2 linked regions of the Homo sapiens genome follow. The protein of the gene in region 1 interacts with the protein of each later gene in a pairwise test. Each region holds a gene or a part of one and is shown in the gene's direction. Other genes may lie near its edges.

What was found.
Region 2: the proteins of CCDC74A (region 1) and SH2D1A interact in a two-hybrid assay, tested with the Homo sapiens proteins (one large-scale study listed by BioGRID and IntAct).

The regions. Positions count from the first base shown.
Region 1 is NC_000002.12:131,530,888-131,534,166, forward strand, and holds the end of CCDC74A (coiled-coil domain-containing protein 74A), read left to right. Parts: intron 1-693; coding exon of another isoform or gene 694-719; exon of another isoform or gene 720-735; coding exon of another isoform or gene 736-776; coding exon 777-915; intron 916-1,701; coding exon 1,702-1,894; intron 1,895-1,976; coding exon 1,977-2,050; intron 2,051-2,125; coding exon 2,126-2,182; exon of another isoform or gene 2,183-2,187; intron 2,188-2,381; coding exon 2,382-2,511; 3' UTR 2,512-2,779; downstream 2,780-3,279.
Region 2 is NC_000023.11:124,349,563-124,353,062, forward strand, and holds part of SH2D1A (SH2 domain-containing protein 1A), read left to right. Parts: intron 1-3,500.

The DNA.
Region 1 (3,279 bases):
GGTGGCCTCTAGGGGTGCTGACCAGGCGCCCTCTGCTGGGCCAAGCTCCAGGATTTGGGGATGAAGGTGCAGCTGAAAAGAGCCCTGCAAGCTGAAGCCACCGGGAGGGGATTAAGGGGGGGTGGGCAGGACCAGGGACCAGTCACAGGGCAGTAAGGCCTCACAGCAGGCACCCCAGGGCGGGGCAGCAAGCAGGCAGGAGGGGCCTCCCCGGGTGGCCTTCTAGGGAGGATGTACCCTGGCTGCCCAGCAGCAGCCCTGCTTGGCCGTGTCCCTGCCACAAGCAGGCAGGACACAGGAGGGATGGCACTGCCCACGGAGCCCTGGGCTCATGGCACCTTCTGCAGAGTGAGCCGGGAGCAGAGAGCCTCTTTTCCCCACTCTGTGAGGCCGGGCATTTTCCTCAGCCCTGCCCTAACCCCCACCATTCCTGTGATGGGCCCAGGTGCTAGACGGGCCTTGTCCTTGCCGAGGAAACCCATGCAGGCTGGGTCCCAAGCCTCTCATGCAGTTTCATTTTACCCAAGATGGGGCCAGCTTCCACTATGTTGATTGTTCTAGAGTGTTCACAGGCACCACCCATGGGCTTCACCCTCAGAACCACATTGATTCCCCCCAGAACCCTCCAAGGCAGGCTTCCCTTTACAGAGGAGGAAACTGAGGCAGGGACAGGGGCTTCTTGGGTACACACAGCTGTTCCTGGAAAACTTGGGCGGTGACTGTTGGTGCCTGCAGTGACCGGCCTTGTAGGGTCTGACTTGCAGCCAACTCTCAAGGCAAGGCCAGGCCCCAGCCCGGCTCCTTCAACAAGCAAGATTCAAAAGCTGACGTCTCCCAGAAGGCGGACCTGGAAGAGGAGCCCCTACTTCACAACAGCAAGCTGGACAAAGTTCCTGGGGTACAAGGGCAGGCCAGGTAAGGCTTGGGTGTTCCTGGGGTGCAAGGGCAGGCCAGGTAAGTCTTGCCTGCACCCTAAGGGCCCCATGACTACATTTACTAGGCTCACGCCCTGCAGTCAGCCAACTGCTCTGCCCCTAGCTCCAGGGGCCTGTCTCCTGGGCTCATGATAGCAGATGACGGCCACGCTCTACCCATCGGTGGGCGCTGTCTTCCTCCCTTCCCCTGGGGGTCCTGCAGAGTACCTGTGCTGACCTGAGCCCACGAGGGGGGCCAGTAGCAGCCCCTAAACCACTTCCTCAGAGAAAAGTAAAGTAATATTCTTACCAAGAGAAGGCTTGCTGCCCCTGGCCACAGCCTGCCTTTGGAGGGCACTAGGCCAGCAGGTCAGAGTAGGAACAGGTTCTGGTGATCCCTGAGTTTGCGGGACTGCCCTGAGATGCTACAGAGTGCACACTTTCAGCAGCGCAACCAGCAGGACAGGCTCCTGCATCTGCACATCCCAAGACCAGGCCTGGAGCAAGATGCCCCACTGGGTGTGGGGTCACGATCAAGAGCAGCCTGGCAGCTAGCTGGTCACCCACTGAAGCCCATCTGACCCTTAGGGCACCTTCAGAGGGGAGAAAGGGACAGGCCCCAGTCCCAGAGACCCCCACCTGGTGCCCAGAGCACCCTGCTCAGTGGGAGAGGGGAACCAGGCCCTCTTCCCCACATTGGCCTGGGCGCTGCCTGGGGAGGTATGCTGGGTGGGTGGTTAGACGCACCTGGGCAGGTCACCTCTGGCTGCTGCAATGACTGTTTCAGAAAGGAGAAAGCAGAGGCCTCTAATGCAGGAGCTGCCTGTATGGGGAACAGCCAGCACCAGGGCAGGCAGATGGGGGCGGGGGCACACCCCCCAATGATCCTGCCCCTTCCCCTGCGAAAGCCCACCACACTTAGGCAGTGCGAAGTGCTCATCCGCGAGCTGTGGAATACCAACCTCCTGCAGACCCAAGAGGTGAGGCCCTGGGTGGTGGGGGTGGCCCTGGGCAGTCTGGCACCGCCACAGGCCCCACCATGCCCCTGCCCCTGCCTTTCAGCTGCGGCACCTCAAGTCCCTCCTGGAAGGGAGCCAGAGGCCCCAGGCAGCCCCGGAGGAAGCTAGCTTTCCCAGGTGAGTGCCTGGTGCACCCCTGCCCCATCCCTGGGGTCCTATCCACAGCTCACTGCTGACTCTTCCTTCACCCAGGGACCAAGAAGCCACGCATTTCCCCAAGGTCTCCACCAAGAGCCTCTCCAAGAAATGGTAAGTCCCACAGGCATGGGGACAGTGGGGCAGCCCTGCAGCCTGGGCCCCAGGGAGGGAGTGGGGAAGGGAGGGTGGCAGCGCAGAAGCAGAGCTCGCTGAGGCCTCTCTGTGCCCCCGTGAGGGCCATGCAGGCCGCACTCCCCACACACTCCACTCCCGGGGATGCTCACGGTGACAGTCCCTCTACCCGCCCCAGCCTGAGCCCACCTGTGGCGGAGCGTGCCATCCTGCCCGCACTGAAGCAGACCCCGAAGAACAACTTTGCCGAGAGGCAGAAGAGGCTGCAGGCAATGCAGAAACGGCGCCTGCATCGCTCAGTGCTTTGAGCCACCCCAATCTGGTCAGTGCCAGGCCCACCAACCTGCAGCTGGAGACTGGCTCTCTATAGCATTTCCTGATACTTCCGCTACTTTTAGGCCTGGCTAAATTCCAAGACAGATAACACTCAAGATAGATAAAGTACTTGATCTCCAAACTGACAAACTGTTTATTTTCTAGCTGTTATTTTGCTATTTGGCATTTACATAAAAGCACACGATGAAGCAGGTATCGCCTTACCTGTTGAAACTGAAAATAAAGCTTGTTTATTTCCAAGTTGTGTGCCTGGCTCCTCACTGGCTATCAGGCGTCGCGTCCCTTCCCAGTCCCAGCCCTTGGCCTCTAGCCCAGGCCCTGCTGTCTGCAGGGACCTGCCTGGGCAGCCCAGTCTTGCGCATCCTGGGACCTGCCAGCGGCCCTGGGAGATAGGCATTGGCAGAGCCATGCACATCCTCCCTGGAAGCGGGAGGGCTTTTCTGGTCCCCTGGCTGGGCTGGAGCTGCGTTCCAAACACATGATCACTCTGTCTCTTGCCCACACTGCACACTCCTGGGGGCAAGAGGCTGTCCTCTCCTGCCCTGACACAGCACCGCAGACAGGGGGTCCAGCCAGGCTCGCCCTCCTCCTCGGAGGGCTGTCTCGAGTGCTGTGGCCATGCCCACACCACCCCTTCCGCCATAGCACAGCCATGTCCATGTCGGGGGTGGGGTGGCCAGCTTACTGCCCACCCTCAGCCAGCCACACAGTCTTCCCAGGCCCACGGCCCCACTTCGTTG
Region 2 (3,500 bases), on another chromosome or scaffold:
TACTCCTATTAACCAAGAAGATTTAATTGAGCTATAGTTTTTATATTTTTATTGTAGAGATAATACATTTCATATGCCTTCAAACTGTACTTTAAACTGTACTTTCAAACGATGCTTGCCCTTTTCCCCAGTTCTGAACCTCCTAATCATGGCTTTCAGATATGGCCTTTTCTTCTGTTCTGATTTAGAAAATCGAAAATTGAACTGCTTCATAAAGCACTAAAGGAGTTTTCCATTTATAGGATTGCTCACCTTCATTTTAAGTAATAAGTATTTCTTTCAATTACTTTCTCTAAATAAATATAGATTTTTGTATAAGTCTATTAAAAATAGTTCCTTATACCTATTCATTATAGAAAATTTGAAACATATAGATAATAGAAATTAGAGAAAAATCATCTATAGTTTTATAACCTAAAGATGACTATTGCTAAAAATTAGGTGAATTTTCTTCTATATTTTAATAAGATGAATTGCTTTTTGAGCACGTGTGCTCTTACAATTGTATTCTTACGAGTGACGTATTTGACTACTAAAAAGTTTGATTTTTGTATGCGTCAAAAAAAGTAAGGGCAAACACCAAATGTTATATATTTATATATATATAAATATCTAATATATATAATATATAAATATATAATATAAAATATATAATATATAAATATATATTATATAATATTATATAATATATAATATATAAATATATATTATATATAATATTATATAATATATAATATATAAATATATATTATATATAATATTATATAATATATAATATATAAATATATATTATATATAATATTATATAATATATAATATATAAATATATATTATATACTATATATAATATATAAATATATATTATATACTATATATAATATATAAATATATATTATATACTATATATAATATATAAATATATATTATATACTATATATAATATATAAATATATATTATATACTATATATAATATATAATATATACTATATTATATATAGTATATTATATACTATATTATATAGTATAATATAGAATATATTATATATTGTATATAAGATAATATATTATATATTGTATATAAGATATAATATATTATATATTGTATATAAGATATAATATATTATATATTGTATATAAGATAATATATTATATATTGTATATAAGATATAATATATTATATATTGTATATAAGATATAATATATTATATATTGTATATAAGATATAATATATTATATATTGTATATAAGATATAATATATTATATATTGTATATAAGATATAATATATTATATATTGTATATAAGATATAATATATTATATATTGTATATAAGATATAATATATTATATATTGTATATAAGATATATTATATATTGTATATAAGATATAATATATTATATATTGTATATAAGATATAATATATTATATATATATTATAAATATGTATATTTTTATATATTATTATAAATATATATATTTTATATATATTATTATAAATATATATTTTTATATATATTATTATAAATATATATTTATATATATTTATATATAAATTTACATGTGTTAAAAATATGATTGTGTTCTTGTATTCTTACAATTGTATACGTTTCCCATTTCCCACTTAATATGAAAAAAATACACTCATATGTAATGTTCTTAGAGACAACTTTAAGATGTTATTTTTAATGGCTGCATGGTAGTCCAGCTAGCTAGTAAGTATACCATATTTTGCTTAGCCAGTCACCTACTTTTAGACATTTGACTCATTCCATATTTTTGTTATTATAAATTCCATCAGGATGTATATTTCAGTACATTAAAGTTTCCTTGCATTTATGATTATTTCCTTAGAATGAATTTCCAGTGTGGAATTTCTAGGTCAGAAAACATAAACAGCTTAGGATTCTTGATATATACATGATCATGAGATATTTTCCCTAAATGGTTATTCCAATTTACATGCTCACCTGTAATGCATCAGTGTCCATTTCACCACACCCTCACTAGAAGTGGGTATTGTAGTTAAGAAAATTTTCCCTTGACATTTGGCCTGTTATTCTTTATTTTATATTTACACTCTATCTCTTTATTTTCCACATTTTATATTCCTTTGGTTAGTGACTGTCATTTTATATGGTTGTTAAGCTGTTGTATTTCCTCCCATGATTTGGCTTTTTGTGTATTTTTCTCATTTAACCAGTTGAATCATACTTTTTTTAAACACACTCTATGTGTATATATATATATGTGCACTAATCCTTGATCTATTGCAAGGTATCCTTTCGAAGTTTGGTGTTTGCCCTTACTTTTTTGACACATACAAAAATCAAACTTTTTTAACACATTGTAAATTTATATATATACTAATCCTTGATCTGTTGCAAGGTATGTTTTCTAAGTTTGGTGTTTGCCCTTACTTTTTTTGACACATACAAAAATCAAACTTTTTAGTAGTCAAATACGTCACTCGTTTTCTTTGTGTTTGATTTCTTCCTTGGCTAGAAAGTCCTTTCCCCTTGAGATATGTCATAAAACTTCACTGCAGTTTTTGTTTTAAATTACGGTTTTGTTAGTTTACATTTACCTCTTTAATTCCATTTGGAGTTGTATTTTGATGTGGATAAAAGATCTAATTTGATTTTGTTTCCAGATAGCTAGCAATTGTCCTAATATAATTTATAAATACAACTTCCATTCTTCATTGATTTGCTAGCCGACTTTACCATATATTAAATTCTTATATATAACAGTTACTGTTTCTGGACTATCTATTTGTCTCAATTGATCCATTTATTCTTGCACTGATAGCACTATAGTATGATAATGTTTTAATATATTTTAAAAATTATTTGCTATTCTTATCTGTTGGTTCTTCAAAATGAAATCTAGAATCATTTTATTAAGTTAAAAAAAATTCATTGGACCAAATGTTTTAGCTCTCACATGCCAGTGAGAACACATGATATTTGTCTTTCTGTGCCTGGCTTATTTCACTTCACATAATGACTTCCAGTTCTATTTACATTTCTGCAAATAACAGGATTTCATTCTTTTTAATGGCCAGATAGTATTCAATTGTATATGCATAGCACATTTTCTTTATCCATTCATCTGTTGCTGGACTCTTCTATATCTTGGCTACTGTAAATAGTACTGTGATAAATGTATGGGCGCAAGTATCCCTTTGATATATTGATTTCCTTTCCTTTTGATAGATACCCTGTAGTGGGATTCCTCAATCATATGGAGATAGAGAGTAAAATGATAGTTACCAGAGGTTGGGAAGGGTGGAAGGCGATGAAGAGAGGTTGGCTAATGGGTACAAACAGACAGTTAGATAGAAGAAATAGGTTCTAGTGTTCAGTCGCACAGTACGGTGACTATAGTTAACAATATCTTATGTATTTTGAAATAGCTAGAAGAGAGTACTTGAAATGTTCTTACATATAGAAATGATAAATGTTTGAGGTGATAAATATCCTAAATATTCAAATCCCCTG